Linked DNA regions of Homo sapiens. The protein of the gene in region 5 purifies or fractionates together with the protein of the main gene of each other region. This does not show direct contact. Each region holds a gene or a part of one and is shown on either strand. Other genes may lie near its edges. The genes, in order: MOV10, ILKAP, RBM34, PRDM4 and STK38.

Region 1 (3,519 bases), on a different chromosome or scaffold from region 5:
AGCCTCAAGTGCCCAGCTATTTTTCATATTTTTCATAGAGATAGGGTCTTGCAATATTGTCCAGGCTGGTCTTGAACTCCTTGGGCTAGTCTTCCCCAAGTGCTGAGATTACAGGCATGAGCCACTGCACCCGGCCCCTACCTCTCTTTCTGATGGCTGCTTAGAAGCAGGAGCATTTCGGGAGTGGGAAGGAACTAGAATCTGGGGACAACTGCTTGGTGCTGGGGGAATCAGAGTGCAGGCCCCAGGTTTGTGCTCAGACCCCACCTGCTTAATTGCCTCCACTAACGTGACAGTCTTGCCGGTGCCTGGAGGCCCAAAGATGATGTAGGGGGCTGGACGGGTGGTGCCCGTAACAATGTGCCTCATGGCCTGCAGCTGCTCTGGGTTTGACTCCAGACTCCGGTCGTACAGCCTGGCAGAGGGACCAGGAATGTGAACTTGAAGTCATCCAGTGACCCAGAGGCCTCCCTGACTCCACCCCCTGTGCCCACACTCCAAGTGGCTCCAGAAGCTCCCTGCCCACAGTCTCACTTGAGTTTCACATCTGAGGGCAGCAGCGGGACGTCCCGAGGTGCCACAGGAAAGAGCATGGGCCACAGCAGCCAGCGCCCTGTCAGCTCCAGGGCACGGTGCTGGACTCGCAGCGGCTGGCGGTTGAAGGTAAAGTTCACCTTGAAGGTCAGCCCATCCACAAAGCGGCTCAGGAGGCTTTGGGCAGAGAGAGGTGGTAAGAGTTTGTTGGGGCAGGGGAGGTGGGCAATAAAGGGCCAGAACTTTCTCCACCAACCAGTGTCCCAACCCCTCTTTCCAAGACCTCTATGCAAGTTCTCTAGAAGAGGAAGCTGCCGTAGCATCTCAGGGTACCCCTGAGGAAAAGTCTCCTGCTCTGCCCCGGGGTCTCATTTATCTCAGGGAGAAACACTCCTCCTCCCCTGGGGTCAGAAGTCTGTAGACCCTTCCAGCAGCTCAGGGTTCCCCCAACACCCACCTCATGGAAAAGCTCAGCTTGACACGGTCCAATTCCACCTTGTGCACAAAGCCCTTATATGTGATGGGGTCCTCCTGGTGTGTCTCCGAGGACAAAAGGGCAAACAGGTGGTCGCCCCGTAGCACTGAGGGGCGGCTCTCAGTCACTCCAGGAACCTATGGGGTGTGAACACAAGCAAGCTTCTGTCCCAGGGATGGACGCTGGAGGGCCCAGCCCCCAGGTTCCCCAGACCTTTAAGGGACAAGGACTGAGACTGGCCTTCTAACCTAAGACTCAGGGAGTTATGCTATCCCTGCACCCCTCTTTCCTTTCATACCAGCAGGAGTCAGGGGAAGAGGAAGAAGACAAATCCTCCGAAGCTGCCCAGAGATGCCGAGCCCAGGAACCCGGAGCCTCCAGTGCAGCTGCCCTCTTGGCCAGCTCAGTTCCTGCTCTGCCTATAAAAATCCTGTTCATCAGTTAATCGGGTTGCTAAAAAAATAATTAAAAAAAAAAAAAAAAAAAAACGGACCAGGCATGGTGGCTCACGCCTGTAATCCCAGCACTTTGGGAGACTGAGGCAGGCGGATCACTTGAGTCCAGGTGTTGCGAGACCAGCCTGGCCAATGTGGCAAAACCCCATCTCTACAAAAAATACAAAAATTAGCCAGGCGTAGTGGGGCATGTCTGTGGTCCCAGCTACTTGGGAGGATCACTTGAGCCCGGGCGGCGGGGATTAAAGCGAGCCAAGATCATGCCATTGCACTCCAGCCTGAGCACCAGGGTGAGACCCTGTCTCAAAACAAAAACAACAACAACAAAAAACTTGTTCAAAACTCACTTCCTGCAGTAATCTTTCCTTGAACAAACTCACCCTCTAATTCCCACCTGCAATTGTGTGTAGAAATCCATTCTCGTGTGTAATTTTGGGCTTATATGCACACATTGAAAATCCAAGAGCCAGAAAGAGCTCTAAGAATTATCCAGTCCAGCTCTGTGCTTTTCAGATAAGGGAACTAAGGCTTAGAGAAAGCCAGGGACTTACCCAAGGTGGTAGCAAAGCCTGGACTAGAACCCAGATCTTCCCCATTTCCCTGCTCCAACACATCTTTGGGCACAGGATGCCCACCCTGCTTCTTGCGGAGCCCTGGGAACCACTTCAACTTTCCTCTTGTTCTGCCCTGCTGTCAGGAATAGTTCTGCCCACAGCCTCTAGCTTGGCTGGCTTGAGCCCACCCTCCTCACACTCAATCTGAGCCCTGACCTCCAGCGTGAGCAGCCTGGGGTTCTGGTCCACAGGGTCCCAGGTCATGGGCACCGACTCCAGGTCATAGTGCCGGATATCATGCTCCATCTGCAGTTCCTCCAGGTGCAGCAGCAGCCGCAGCTTCACCTCATAGTTCCTCCACTTCAGGGCTGTCTCCAGCTGGGCCCTGGAAATGATGGTTGGGAGGGGTGAGTGGGGGCAGGAACAGGATGGGCCAGACAACCCCTATGCCCAGGAGTATCCACCTTCTCCCACCTGAAGCTCTGGAACTAGCGTCAAAAAGCAGAGAAGACTAGAGGGATACAGAAGTGGATGAGAGTCAGAGGCCCTGAAGAAGGAAGCCTTGGCTCCTGCTTCCTTGGATGCCCCTGCCCCCACCTCACCCGACTTGCATTTGCATGGTGGCTCTTATGGCCAGAACATTCTCCTCCAATCCTCTCATGACTCCCACCCTCACCTCATTCAAATGTCCTTCTCTGTTCAAACATCACTACCTCAAACAGGCCAGGACTAACTGGCCTTCTGCAAAGCAGCACCAACCCATTCCCTAACCCTGCTTTAGTTTCAGTATAGTTCTGTTCATCTTTTTTAGAGACAAGATCTTGCTCTGTCACCCATGCTGGAGTGCAGTGGCATGATCTGGGCTCACTCACTGTGTCCTCAACCTCCTGGGCTCAAGAAATTCTCCCACCTCTGCCTCACAAGTAGCTGGGACTACAGACATGTGCCACCACACTTGGCTAATTAAAATTTTTTTTTGTAGAGACAGAATCTCACTATGTTGCCCCAGGCTGGTCTTGAACTCTTGGGCTTAAATGATCCACCTGCCTCGGCCTCCCAAAGTGCTGAGATTACAGGCATGAGCCACTTACACCTGACCTGTTTAGTTCTTCACAGCACTCATCACTCCATGAAATTGTAACAAAAATGCTCATTGTCCCCCATTAAAATGAGCCAGGCCTTCATTTGACTGGTTCACCTTGAATGGTGCTTGGTGTATGGTGCGTGCTCAGTAAGGGAATGAATGAATACAGCCTGGGAGGCTGAGGACGGAGGTGCCAGGGCAATGCAAAGAAGCCAGTAGGTAAAAGACGGGAGAGTGCGGGGTGCAGAGGGATGGTACTTACTTGATCTCTGCGATCTCCTTAGGGGCAGTGAAGATACTTGTTCCCTGAAGAAGCATGGGGAGCAGCTGCCTGAGGCGGGGAGGTGGGTAGTATGTCCCCAGCGCCATACTTAACTCCAGGTCATAGCCCTTAGCGCTGCAGAATCGAGGGAAGAA
Region 2 (3,519 bases), on a different chromosome or scaffold from region 5:
CAGGTATATTTTCTATATTTTAGGAAAAGTACTCCAGTCATCTTATATAAGAATTCTCAATCTTCAGGGCTGTAGACCCATACCAAAAAATTGCAGCATCCTCACACTCACAGTGTGGCCTGAAACCTTCCCAATAAAGATAGTACCCTTAGTTGTAATGAAAGTTAATATGTTCTGGCTGGGCGTGGTGGCTCACGCCTATAATCCCAGCACTTTGGGAAGCCAAGGCGGGTAGATCACTTGAGGTCAGGAGTTCAAGACCAGCCTGGCCAACATGGCGAAACCCTGTCTCTACTAAAAATACAAAAATTAGCCAGGCATGGTGGCATGTGCCTGTCGTCCCAGCTACTCAGGAGGCAGAGGCAGGAGAGTCGCTTGAACCCAGGAGGCAGAGGTTGCAGTGAGCTGAGATCACGCCATTGCACTCCAGCCTGGGTGACAGAGAAAGACTCTGTCTCCAAAAAAAAGGAAAGTTAATATGTTCAAAGAAGGCTGTTAAGGGATTTAATAGAAGAAATGAAGATACAGCATAGCTGTCTCTTATTTATCTACAGGACAAAAGGCAAAGTAGTAAAAAATTTAGAAGATTTACATAACACTATTAACAAGCTTAATTTTTTGGATATATAATCTTGGGTCTAGTGTTTTAGATTTCTAGAGAAGTTAACACATTTTTTTTTTCTTGAGACGGAGTCTCACACTCTCACCCAGGCTGGAGTGCAGTGGCACAATCTTGGCTCACTGCTACCTCCACCTCCCGGGTTTAAGCGATTCTCCTGCCTCAGCCTCCTGAGTAGTTGGGACTACAGGCGTGTGCCACCATGCCTGGCTAATTTTTGTATTTTTAGTAGAGACAGGGTTTTCCCATATTGGCCAGGCTGGTCTCGAACTCCTGACCTTGTGATCTGTCCGCCTCAGCCTCCCAAAGTGCTGAGATTACAGGCGTGAGCCACTGCACCCAGCCGATAACACATTCTTTTTTTTTTTTTCCTTTTTTGAGACTGTCTCTCTCTCTGTTGCCCAGGCTGGAGTGCAGTGGCGCGATCTCAGCTCAGTGCAAGCTCTGCCTCCCAGGTTCATGCCATTCTGCTGCCTCAGCCTCCCAAGTAGCTGGGACTACAGGCTCCCGCCACCACGCCCACCTAATTTTTTTGTATTTTTAGTAGAGATGGGGTTTCACCATGTTAGCCAGGATGGTTTCCATCTCCTGACTTCGTGATCCGCCTGCCTCGGCCTCCCAAAGTGCTGGGATGACAGGTGTGAGCGACCTTGCCCGGCCCGATAACACATTCTTAAGCGGGCAGGAACCATTTACAAAAGTTGATTATGTACTAAGCCATAAAATAAGCCTCAATGATCTGTTTCTTGTACAGACTACATTCTCAGACTACAGTGTAATTTGCTTAGAAGTCAATAACAAACCTGTAAGGTGTCTTTATTTTGAAATTTTATTATTTTTCTTTTTTTCTTTTTCTTTTTCTTTTTTTTTTTTTAAGACAGTCTCACTCTGTTGGCAGGCTGGAGTGCAGTGTTGCGATCTCAGCTCACTGCAACCTCTACTTCCCGGGTTCAAGTTCCTGTCTAAGCCTCCCGAGTAGCTGGGACTATAGGCACCTGCCACCACACCCAGCTAATTTTTTGTATTTTCAGTAGAGACGGGGTTTCACCATGTTGGCCAGGATGGTCTCAATCTCTTGACCTCATGATCCGCCTGCCTCTGCCTCCCAAAGTGCTGGGATTACAGGCATGAGCCGCTGCGCCTGGCCTTTTTCTTTTTCTTTTTTTTTTTTTTGAGATGGAGCCTTGCTCTGTTGCCTAGGCTGGAGCGCAGTGGCGAGATCTCAGCTCACTGCAGCCTCCGCCTCCTGGGTTCCAGTGAGTCTCGTGCCTCAGCCTCCCGAGTAGCTGGGATTACAGGCGCTACCATGCCCGGCTAATTTTTTGTATTTTAATTAGAGACCGGGTTTCGCCATGTTGGTCAGGCTTGTCTTGACCTTCTGACCTTAGATGATCTGCCCATCTCAGCCTCCCAAAGTGCTGGGATGACAGGTGTGAACCACCACACCTGGCCATCTGTTTTGGAATTTTAAAGGAAGAAAGTTTCACATCCATATGGGGAAAACTGGAACCCATACAGTAAGCCACAGGACACTAATGGGGACCTTTGGGAGAGATACTGTTGGAAACATCTGTGTTGCCTTATGCAGGGTGCATATGTGTATTATGTTATACTGTTGCAGAAATAGGGCCTTGTGCAACTAATTTACGCTTCTTGAGGGCAGGAACATTTTCATTACTTTTTCCTCAGCACTAAGAAATGTCTGACACAGGCGGTTCAAGACCAACCTACCCAACATGGTGAAACTCCGTCTCTACTAAAAATACAAAAATACAAAAATTAGCTGGGTGTGATGGTGCACTCCTGTAGGCTGAGACAGGAGAATTGCTTGAACCCTGGAGGTGGAGGTTGTAGTGAGCTGACGTTGCGTCACTGCACTCGAGCCTGGGCGACAGAGTAGACTCCGTCTCAAAAAAAAAAAAAAGACACCTTGTGTTTACCAAAAAAATTAAAAAATTAGCCGGGTGTAGTGGTTCCTGCTTTCAGTCCCAGCTGCTCAGGAGGCTGAGATGGAAGGATCACTTGAACACAGGAGTTGGAGGCTGCAGTAAACTGTGATCATGCCACTGCATTCTAGTCTGTGTGACAGAATGAGACCCTGTGTCAAAAACAAAAAGAAGAAGAAATGTCTGGCAAAGAGTAGGTTGAGTAAGTAAATAAGTACTTGCATCCTTTTTTTTTTTTTTTTTTTTTTTTTTTTAAAGAGAAACGTCTTACTACTTTGCCCAGGCAGGTCTCAAATGCCTGGGCTGAAGTGATCCTTCTGCCTCAGTCTCCAGAAGTAGCTGTGACTGCAGGCATGTGCCACTGCATCTGGCTGTTGCATACTTTTATACCTAAATGCAGAGAACATTTCAAGTCATTTATTAGGACAGCAGCTGCCCTTATTGGAGATTGATGTGTTAGGCACTGTGACAAATGCTCTTCCTACTTGTCCTGACCCATTTTCAAACATCCCTCTGAGATGACAGTATTCTTACCATGTTACGCACGGGTGAAGACAGCTGAGACTGAAAGATTAAGTTGCACACCTCTTTGAAACTTGACTTTTCTCATTTCAAACACATACACTGCAGATTCCCTTAGCTTTGAGTACAGATTCATCCTTTTGCTAGTGGGAACAGCTGTGGCAGCCTTATTTTGCCTTTGAAAGGATGTATTACAGTTCTTAAAGGCTGCCATTTACCTCATTTTGAGCCTTTTCGAGTACTTGTTACTTTTTGGAACGTGATTAGGATATGTTAGTTTGCTTACAGATTTTGTAAGTGTTTGTTTAACACTAAGAGCCTGTGGATATAAAAACATGTATATGCTACAGGCCAAAAAAAACCATGTATTTTTACCACTGGGAAAAGTCTTTTACAAACCCCTTCAGCAGGGTCAGTTTGACTCAGGGCCTG
Region 3 (3,519 bases), on a different chromosome or scaffold from region 5:
CAGCTGGCTTCACCCAGTGGATCCTGCACCGGGGCTGCAGGTGGAGCTGCCTGCCAATCCCATGCCGTGCGCCTGCACTCCCCAGCCCTTTGGTGGTCGATGGGACTGGGCGTCGTGGAGCAGGGGGTGGCGCTCCTCGGGGAGGCTCGGGCCGCACAGGAGCCCATGGAGGGGGTGGGAGGCTCAGGCATAGCGGGCTGCAGGTCCCGAACCCTGCCCTGCGGGAAGGCAGCTAAGGCCCGGTGAGAAATCGAGCGTAGCGCCAGTGGGTTGGCACTGCTGGGGGACCCAGTACATCCTCCGCAGCCACTGGCCCGGGTGCTAAGCCCCTCACTGCCCGGGGCCGGCAGGGCCTGCAGGGCCGGCCGGCTGCTCCGAGTGCGGGGCCCGCCAAGCCCACGCCCACCTGGAACTCCAGCTGGCCCGCAAGCGCCGCGCAGCCCTGGTTCCCACTCGCGCCTCTCCCTCCACACCTCCCTGCAAGCTGAGGGAGCCGGCTCCGGCCTTGGCCAGCCCAGAAACGGGCTCCCACAGCGCAGCGGTGGGCTGAAGGGCTCCTCAAGTGCCGTCAAAGTGGGAGCCCAGGCAGAGGAGGTGCGGAGAGCAAGCGAGGGCTCTGAGGACTGCCAGCACGCTGTCACCTCTCAAGAAGAATCCAGGTGGGGCTTTGTGCCTTTCCCACACTTTGGCCATTCCGTCCTCCAGGCCTGCAGCACCCATAGCTGCGATCTCAGCCTTTCCCAGGGAGTGGAGGTCAGTGGGGCAGATCCTGAGGATGGGCGCACACTCCTGCCTCGGCAGCTTCCAGGACTTCTGTTTCAGGCCCAGCCCACGCTGAGCTCTAGTGTTTTAGTGAGATCATGGCTGGAATCTTTCCTGCTTGTCTGGTGCCCAGCATTTTGCCCCTGTGCTCGGCCATCGTAGAGCCAGAAGAGCCAGTGCTTCCTCTGTCTCTCATTGGAGGAAGCAGGCCTGTCCTTAGCTTCTAGCTGCTGGCTTTCCCCAAGACTTCAGCTCTGTGATGGCTGCAACAAAAGTTATGATGCTGTGGGTTATCTGGTTTCTTCTTAACTGGTAAGAGCAGGAGTGATGCACTTTCTGGCTTTTTACATTCTAGGTGGAAGCGGAACTCCAGCATTTGTTCCTGGGGGTGCACTAGGATGTGTTGGATTTGGATGTTGTCGGCAGCTGTGTGTTGTGTGAAGAGCAGGGCTCTAGAGTCAGCTAGACTTGGTTTCAGTCCTAGGCCAGCCACTTGTTGCCATTTCATCGCAGTCACGTACCTCTTCCAGTCTCAGCTTCCTTATTCATAAAATCAGAAAAAAAACACCGTGTTGGAGATGTGAGATTAAATGAAATACATAAAATGTCTAGCTGAGTGTCTGGTATATATTAGGCATTCAGTAAATCACAGCTGGTTTAATCAATACAAAAGCATTAGTATAGTGTATTATTACAGAATGCCATCAGTCATGTCAGGCACTATTTTCCAGTTCCCTTCTTGATGATACTCATTTGTGTAGTAGCATTTTTCTTACTTCAAAACAGTAGGTTGATGTCTTCAGGGAAAGATCTGTGTTCATTACTAGGTCCTTTTTGCTAACTCCTCACATCCAAATTATATCACCATTTTGCAAACCTAGTGACTTAATGAGTTTAGGCATTTAGTAGCAGCAGCTGCAGTCATTGACAAAAGGGTAAAAACCAGTCATAACATGACTCCCTGGAAAGAACACAACACCCACCAGCAGTCGCGACAAAGGGGTCATGTCTGAGTCTGATCCATCCTTTTGATGCAGCTGCCAGTTTACAAGAAATATAGAGGACAAAGGTTTGTGTTAAACTACTTGATGAGCTTGCAGTCACAAAATCCAGGCTGTGGGGAATTCTGCAGGCCAAATAGTGAGAGATAAAGAGATACAGAGAAAACTCTGTAAATTAAACAAGATTCAAAAGACATATCAGGTCAAAAGTATAGACAAGACCAAAGTATGATGTCTAAGAATAGACACTTGGTTGATAAAACCACAAAGATGTGCAGGGAAGTAGTTCCTATAAAAATGGGAATGGTGGTTGCCTTTGGAGGGAAGGAGGGGCTGCAACGGGAAAGGGCCACAGAGAGGCTTCTGAGTGGGCTACAAGGCACGTTGAGCTGTTGTTAATTCACTCAGCTATACGTAGTTTGTGCACTCTTCTATATGGGTGTTTCACAGTAAAGAGGAAAACTCACGTCTTTCACAACTGTTTATATGTGTGTTAGATACGGACTGCAGCTAAGATGTCAGTTTTTAGTTCTTGTATGGTTCTCAGGGATTCATATACATGGTTCATCTGTTTTCTCATGGTTATGATTCCTAAGAAAGTATGGGTTGTGTCTCCACTAATATCTTTATAAGTTGTGTGTTATTTTTTGAGTTATTACTAAATATTTATTCAAAGAGATGAAATGTCCACCCAGGAATTCTTGTCATGTGTGTTAAGAGTTGAAAACAGCTAGATTTTTTTCTAGTGACTTTGAGGCTAAGAAATTTACCTTGTCTCTCTTTTCTTTCTTTCTTTTTTTTTTTTTGGTGTAGACGTAAAATTCATCCTGATCAGAAAAATATTAATGCCTATGTTGTGTTTAAGGAGGAGAGTGCTGCCACGCAAGCATTGAAAAGGTAATTTTATCCCTTAGGTTTGAACAGAATAATTGTCCTATAAGTATGTATGAGTACTTTTTTTATTCTTTGGTTTCACTTTAGCATAGATGTTTTAGTAATCGAGTGCTCATTTTTAACAACCATTTTCCCTTTGTATTTATAATACAGAAATGGGGCCCAGATTGCAGATGGATTTCGTATTAGAGTTGATCTCGCATCTGAGACCTCATCTGTAAGTAGTACTTGATTTGTTTAAAGAACGAGAGCTTTGTAGAGAGAAATGTTTCCTTCCAGGCTTTTCCTGGAAGGGGACTGGAATCAGCAATGTGAGGGAAGCGCAGAAGGAAACAGCCTATGTCCTCTGTGGTTACAGAGTTGATGGCAAGAGAGGCACAAGGACCGAGGTCAACATTCCCTTCAAAAACGTAGTCCTGGCTGGGCACAATGGCTCATGCCTGTAATCCTAACATTTTGGGAGGCCAAGGCGGGAGGATCACTTGAGCCCAGGAGTTAAGAGCAGCCTGAGCAATGTAGCAAGACCCTGCCTTTACAAAAAAAAAAAAAAAAATTAGTCAAGTGTGTGATGCATGCCGACAGTCCCAGCTACTCAGAAGGCTGAGGTGGGAGCACCACCTGAGCCCAGGAGTTTGAGGCTGCAGTGAGCTGTAGTCGTGCCACTGCATTCTAGCCTGGGCAACAGAGGGCGACCCTGTTTCTTAAAAAGAAACAAAAACATAGTCCTCTTCAAATAAGCATAATTAGGTCAGAAGGTACATTAGACATCATCTGGTCTAACACATTATAGACCGAGGTCTAGAAAGTTCAATTATTCATTAGACAGTTTTTAGTACACACTCTGTCAGAGATGCAGTTCTAA
Region 4 (3,519 bases), on a different chromosome or scaffold from region 5:
ACTACCGCATGTGCTAAGCTTATCTGCAAAATACAAAAATGACTACTTCACATTTCATTTCTTCAGGAGGATGCTCTAAGAACCAACTAAATGTATGTATATCATTTGGCTTACTTGAAGAAAAGGCACCACATTAATATAAAGGACAATACCAAGGCAAAGAAAAGTTCCAAGGTCTAGTTGCTTTCTATACTCCCTTAATGCCAAACTTTACGACTTAACTTGTTAGGGATGGTGGCCCTTTTTACAAATATTTCCAAAAAAGAAAGGCTAAACACACTCACAAATTGTAAACAAGGTTGCCATGTTCTCCTTGTTTGAATTGGAGTCTTCCATTTGCAGTGAAGGTGATACAAAAGAAAGACTGTCTGAAGATACATCTACATGACCTGTCCCCATAGCAACCTCCTGGGTGATGGAGGAGACAGCCACAGGTTCTAGGCTGAGGCCAACTTCATGGAGGGAAACAGATTCTAGGGAGGCAAGGTTGTGTGAGGTAGAGAGTGCCACGCTTACAGAGTTGGTGCTCATGGCCACAGTGTGAATGGAGTCACTGAGGGCACTGTCAGACATGCCATTGACCCGACTTGCAATGTGGTCTGTCTCCATGACCACAGGGAGCTCCAGGCCATTCCCATGCATGGGTATCACACCACCATGTCCTACAGCGTCTGCTGCAAGGTTGTTGCTCACAGAATCCACAGACAGAGGTTCATGACTTCTGGAGCCATTTGGGATTTGGGAATGCTCGCCTGCAACACCGTCCATCGTAAGCTCCTCTGCCATTCCATCTGTCGAAATTGGGCTGGTAACCCTAGAAACGTTCTCCATAGTGATTGCTGTGTCCAAGGCCACCTCATGGCCATCACTGGGATGAAGACTTTGGGCACCATGTGTGTTCACAGAGCGAGAGTCTATTGAAACAATGCCTGGTTCTAATCCAACATTTCCATTGGACTGATAGGGATCTAGTGCTGAAGGGTTATTGGTGATAGATAATGCTGTATTACCATCAACATTTATAGAGTTAGGGTGGATGTACTGTGGAGGTGGTCTGTCAGCTAAATAAGATAAAATGCCTGAGAAAAGGAAAAGATGAGATATCAGAGACTTTTAGTACATTATTAAAGAATTCCAAGCACTAGACGCTATTTCCTTACAAACATAACTAAGTTCAAATAATCTCCTGCTTCTTTAATTTAATCGATACACACTATTTTATAAATAGCAACATACATATACCGTAATTGAGTTTTTCCTGTAAAACTCGAAAATCCTAAAAAAGTTAACTATGTTCCTTTGAAGCTAACTGGGAATCACTAACGAAAACACTGCTTTTAATATACATATGGTTGCAATTCCTGAGTCCTAAGGTGTAAAATTTGCTCTCCTAATTATTAAAAGGTAAAATGATTTAAAAACAGATCTTCCATGTGAAAAATAAAACTTAATTAAATATAATTTAATATAATTAAACTATCATAACACAAACTATTTAATACAAGTCACAATTGTACCTGTTTTATTAAAACAAAAAAAAATTAACACTTGTGCTTGGGAGGATATGGTGAAATGATACTTACTAAACTGCCAGAGGGAATGTAAACTGCTAAAACTTCTTTGTGAAGCATATATATTAGGAGCCTCAAAAATGTTAATACCCTCTTGCACAAGAAATTCCACTTAAGGTACTCTTCTCTAAATCCATTTTGTAAATATTATACATAAAGACGTTCATAAGAGCATTAGTTACAATGGTAATAAAAACTGGAAAAACCAAACTGTCCAACAATAAAGATAATAAACCATCAAATACCCATTCAGTAGAAAGTAATGCATCATTAAAAAGGATAATTATGAAAACCACGTAGCAGCAAAGGAAAATACCCATGTAACAGCAGAGAAAAAGATAAAGTGAAAAAAGTAAAGACAGACAATCGTATAGAAAGTATGGTCTTGGGCAGGGCACAGTGGCTCATGCCTGTAATCCCGGCACTTTGGGATGCTGACGTGGGCGGATGGCTTCAGCGCAGGAGTTCGAGACCAGCCTCGGCAACATGCCAAAACCCCATCTCTTTTTTTAAAAAAGTTATTTATAAAAAAGAAATGAAATATGGTATGGTCTCAAGGCAGGCATGTGCCTGTATTCCAAGCTACTCAAGAGTCTGAGGTGAGAGAATCACTGGAGTCCAGGAGTTCCAGTCCAGCCTGGGCAAAATAGTTGAGACTCCGTCTCCATTAAAAGAAAAAAAAAAAAAAGAAAAGAAAAAAGAGAGCAAGAGAAGAAACCGTGGTCTTAATTATGAAAATTGGTAAAAACCTATACACCAAAACAAATGGCAGGAAGGAAGTACACCAAAAAGATGGATGATGGGACTGAGTGGTTCCTTCCCTTATTTGCTAAATTTTCCGCAATAAGCATATAATACTCCTATAACAGAATAAAAATTCAATGAACTTAAAAAACATGACACTATAACAAGACACTATAGTGCTTGACTGAAATTATAGCTGTAGAATTATAAACACCAAATGAAAGAGATACTGGAGGAGAAAGAAGAAAAATTATGTGCAATTAAGAAATTCAGCTTAGTCAAACTGTATTACTAATGTGTTATGTGCCACATTCTAAGAGGAAAAGTACATAAATATAAACAAAGATACTTTTCCTGCCTAGAGATTAATATCTAATAGTGACAAACAGAAAAAAGTGTTATTCATATCTTCAGGATAAAAGTTTAAAAGCTGGCGCCGTTCTTTTTCTCTAACATCTCAAGTAACTGTAACACTTACCAGGTAGAATGGTTCTGAAATAACTGCTCTCCAGGTGAGGGTAAGGTGGTGGAGGTAGGGTGTAGTTTCTTTCAGGTAACCCACACATCACCCCTCGATCCCCAATACCCATTGGTAGCATTAAAGACAGAGCAGAAGGCAGAGAGCTCAGGGAGGGACCCAGGTTTGGAATTGCCACTGGGAGGCCTACAAAACAAAATTTTTTTTCTCAGTTAAAAGAAAATAGGTAATTAAAAATTCTCACTACAACCACTGGCTAAACTCTTAGAAAGGTTTTTACACATGGGCAAAAATCTCACCTACTAGCCCTTTTCATCCTTAGATAATGTGCAAATATCCACAAATAAGCCTAAAGAAAGTAGTCTTAGTCCCAAAGATAGTTTTTAAGTTAGTTCTAAACCGGCAAGTTGATACTCCAATTGTCTGTATTGCGCTTAAATACAAAAATATTTAATTAATTAATTTATCGATTGATTTGAGACGGAGTCTTGCTTTGTTGCCCAGGCTGGAGTGCAGTGGTGTGATCTCAGCTCACTGCAATCTCGGCCTCCTGGGTTCAAGCAATTCTCCTACCTCAGCCTCCTGAGTAGCTGGGATTACAGGCACACACCACCACACCCAGCTAATTTTTGTATTTTTGCTAGAGACAGGGTTTCACCATGTTGGCCAGGCTGGTCTCGAACTCCTGGCCTCAAGTGATCTGCCCACCTCAGCCTCCCAAAGTGC
Region 5 (3,519 bases):
ACCTAAACCTATTTTTCATTTTCCCCCAAACTCCCAGACCCAAAGTGAAATCATGCCTCTGGTACCACTAGGAAGTCAGCTAATAGGTAGAGCTGGGAAAAGAAAGGAGGACATAAATAGAGTTGCAGGTGTGGGAATCACCATGCCCAAAGAAGAAATGAAAGGATGAAACAATATCATTCCAGAAATACCCTTATATGGGTAAAGTACCAAATAACTTGAATAAGAAAAAAGCATAGATTTTAAAAATGACCACCATGCCTCTTTTTGAGAACTACAGGCAAGAAGACAAACACGCACACACCCTATCACCCCATCTTCCCTCCAGACGGTGTACGCCCACCTCCACAGGCATCGTTCCCATGTTCCTGAAGCCAAAGCAGCCAGATAGACTCACCCGGAACCACCAAGGATATACTTAATCTAGTGCTCACTGGCATATGACCACCCCCACAGATGCGTCCCATAAATACAGAGACACACCAATACAATAAGAGGGAGAGAGGCCAGAGGGTCCCATGATTTGAAGGCTTTGACAGAGGAAGGGGGCGGCAAATTAGGAAAGTGAGGCAATGCCCAGTTGAAGTGCTCTGCATACAACGGATATTTAATAAATGCTAGTGACTAAAAGAGCTTCTAGATGGAGAAGATGAAGGTATAAGAGAAAGAAAAACATAAAAAATGATCAGCAAAGCAATTGCAGGATGCCAGTAAGCCCAAGAATGGAGTGGGATACATCTTACTGAAAGAGGTGTCATCTGTCTAAAACAATTCACTTTGAAAGACAAGTAGGGAAATCACTTAGATCACTGCCAATTGAAACAGAGGCTGGTATCAATGTAAAAGTCTGTCATGGATGCACAGAAAAAGTCCTCTGAAACCATGCAACTTACCGATGAGCATCTCATACATGATCACCCCAAGCGACCACCAATCACAGAGCTTGTTGTACCCGGTCTGCATGAACACCTCAGGAGCAATGTAGTCAGGAGTGCCTACTGTGGAGAAGGCCTGAAACATGGACCACACATCAGCGAGGCCCAGCCAGGCAGGAGGTGCCCAGAGTTCTGTTCTAGAAACCAAAGGCTATGAGTAACATCAGAAGCTACCCCCAAGCTAAATAAGCAGGACTGCCCAGTAGCTTAATGGCAAGCTCGATTTCCCAAAGCACTTTCCAAAATGAACAATAAAGCTTTGTTCATGAGGCAGGAGACCCTTAACTATGAGTCACTAGGGCGAAGGCATCTGTGTCATAATAACTGGTATTACAATTTACTGAGCACCCATTAAGTACTAGGCTCTGTACTTAATATATATATTACATGAGTTTTATATATATATATAACTTCATATACATGAGTCCATTTAATCCTGACAAAACTTTTCCAAGGAGGACCTTATTAGCTTAACTTTGCAGATACAATTTGATGCTCAAAATGGCTTTGCCTGAGACCGCAGAACTAGTTAGGTGGTAGAGCCCAGTTTAAAAATTAAATATCTGGCCGGGAGTGGTGGTTCACGCCTGTAATCCCAGCACTTTGAGAGGCTGAGGTGGGCGGATCACGAGGTCAAGAGATGGAGACCATCCTGGCCAACATGGTGAAAACCCGTCTCTACTAAAAATACAAAAATTAGCTGGGCGTGGTGGTGTGCACCTGTAGTCCTAGCTTCTCGGGAGGCTGAGGCAGGAGAATCGCTTGAACCCGGGAGGCGGAGGTTGCAGTGAGCCGAGATCGTGCCACTGCACTCCAGCCTGGCGACAGAGTGAGACTCTGTCTCAAAAAAAAAAAAAAAAAAAAATAGGAATTATAGTATCTTACTCCAAACCATCCCTCTTTCTATGATACACATTCTTTGATTTGACACAATCATAAAGGGAAGCTATATGATCAAAAGCTAAAGTTATATCCTATAACTTAAACATTTATAAATACCTATTTACCAAACTTAATTGTTTTTGTATATAGTTCTTGGAGGAATGTTTTCTTTTTCTAAGAAATGGGGGTCTCCCTTTGTGGGCCCAGGCTGGAGTGCAGTGGCACGATGATGGCTCACCTCAAACTCCTAGGCTCAAGAGATCCTCCCACCTCAGCCACCATAGTAGCTAGGACCACAGGTGCATGCCACCACACCTGGCTAATTTTTTAATTTTTTTGTAGAGATGGGGTTTTGCCATCTTGCCCAGACTGGTCTTTAACTCCTGGCTCAAGTGATCCTCCCACCTCAGCCTCCCAAAGTGCTGGGATTACAGGTGTGAGCCACCGCACCTGACCAAGAGAAACATTTTCTGCATTCCAGTATTCTACTCTAACATACCAGGACTGCAAAATAAGAGGAGAAAGTACAATCAAAGCCTCCTAATGTACTTAACATTTGAGGGCTTCCATGTGTAAGGCTCTGATCTAGGTGCTTTAAATATTATATAATTTTTTAAATTACAGTTGTATTGTTTTTAAAACATGTATTATGAAATATTACAAACATACAGAAAAAAGGAACAGACAATACAATACAGACCCATTACCCACATTAAAAAGATTAATAATTTGCCATATTTGTCTCAGATCATTTGTCTTTTTTTTTTTTTTTGAGATGAACCACACCTGGCTAATTTTTTGTATTTTTAGTAGAGACAGGGTTTCACCACATTGGCCAGGCTGGTCACAAACTCCTGACCTCAAGTGATCCACCCACCTCAGCCTCCCAAAGTACTGGGATTACAGGAGTGAGCCACCGCAACCGGCCTTGTTTGTCTTAACATTCGTTTTGAGATTTATTCATGTAGCTCTAGTTCACTCATTTCTCTGCCGTATGCTATACTGTTATATAAATTAGTCACAATAGTTTTTATCCGTTCTTCTGTAATGGACAGTTACAGTGCTTCCAGTATTTCACTATGACAAATAACACCTGAATAAACATTCTTTTAATACCTTCTTGGGCACTGTGCAAGCATTCCTCTAGAGTATTAACTAGAATATTGCTGAGCCTTGGGTTATAAGCATTTAAACTTGAGGTATCTTCCATGTCCTCCAAAGTAGTTAGTCCCTATTTAAACCAACCCCGGTGGGGATTAGCTTCTGGTACTCCATATCTCATCAAGACTTGGCTTTGTCAGATTTTTTTTTATTTTTACCAATCTGATGAATATGAAATGGGATCTCTTTTTTTTTCTTTTTAAGAGATGGGGTCTTGCTCTGTCACCCGGGCTGGAGTGCAGTGGTATGATCATAGCTCACTGCAGCCTTGAAATCCTGGCCTCAAGGGATTCTCCTGCCTCAGCCTCCTGAGTAGCTGGGACTGTAGGGATGTGCCAGCATGGCTGGGATCTTGTTTTAATTTGCATTTACTTTATTTCAAGTAGGGTTGAGCACATATTCATATTTTAATTAGCCATCCAGGTTTTTATTATGAATTCCTATTCAGATCCTTTGTCCATTAGTATTTTTTAAGTTGTGTTGTCCTTTTTCTTATTGATTCATAGGAATTCTTTATGAATTCAGGACATTAATCTGTTTA

Evidence for each region.
Region 1: the proteins of STK38 (region 5) and MOV10 purify together in Homo sapiens (affinity purification with mass spectrometry; one large-scale study listed by BioGRID and IntAct). This does not show direct contact.
Region 2: the proteins of STK38 (region 5) and ILKAP fractionate together in Homo sapiens (co-fractionation; one large-scale study listed by BioGRID). This does not show direct contact.
Region 3: the proteins of STK38 (region 5) and RBM34 purify together in Homo sapiens (affinity purification with mass spectrometry; one large-scale study listed by BioGRID and IntAct). This does not show direct contact.
Region 4: the proteins of STK38 (region 5) and PRDM4 purify together in Homo sapiens (affinity purification with mass spectrometry; one large-scale study listed by BioGRID and IntAct). This does not show direct contact.

What each region holds. Positions count from the first base shown.
Region 1 is NC_000001.11:112,691,645-112,695,163, reverse strand, and holds part of MOV10 (helicase MOV-10), read right to left. Parts: intron 3,500-3,519; coding exon 3,365-3,499; intron 2,404-3,364; coding exon 2,235-2,403; intron 1,147-2,234; coding exon 992-1,146; intron 712-991; coding exon 535-711; intron 416-534; coding exon 268-415; intron 1-267.
Region 2 is NC_000002.12:238,190,178-238,193,696, reverse strand, and holds part of ILKAP (integrin-linked kinase-associated serine/threonine phosphatase 2C), read left to right. Parts: intron 1-3,519. UniProt on the Homo sapiens protein: Protein phosphatase that may play a role in regulation of cell cycle progression via dephosphorylation of its substrates whose appropriate phosphorylation states might be crucial for cell proliferation.
Region 3 is NC_000001.11:235,137,232-235,140,750, reverse strand, and holds part of RBM34 (RNA-binding protein 34), read left to right. Parts: intron 1-2,576; coding exon 2,577-2,660; intron 2,661-2,810; coding exon 2,811-2,874; intron 2,875-3,519.
Region 4 is NC_000012.12:107,751,131-107,754,649, forward strand, and holds part of PRDM4 (PR domain zinc finger protein 4), read right to left. Parts: intron 2,980-3,519; coding exon 2,794-2,979; intron 1,080-2,793; coding exon 285-1,079; intron 1-284. UniProt on the Homo sapiens protein: May function as a transcription factor involved in cell differentiation.
Region 5 is NC_000006.12:36,498,980-36,502,498, forward strand, and holds part of STK38 (serine/threonine-protein kinase 38), read right to left. Parts: intron 1,012-3,519; coding exon 894-1,011; intron 1-893. UniProt on the Homo sapiens protein: Serine/threonine-protein kinase that acts as a negative regulator of MAP3K1/2 signaling. Converts MAP3K2 from its phosphorylated form to its non-phosphorylated form and inhibits autophosphorylation of MAP3K2.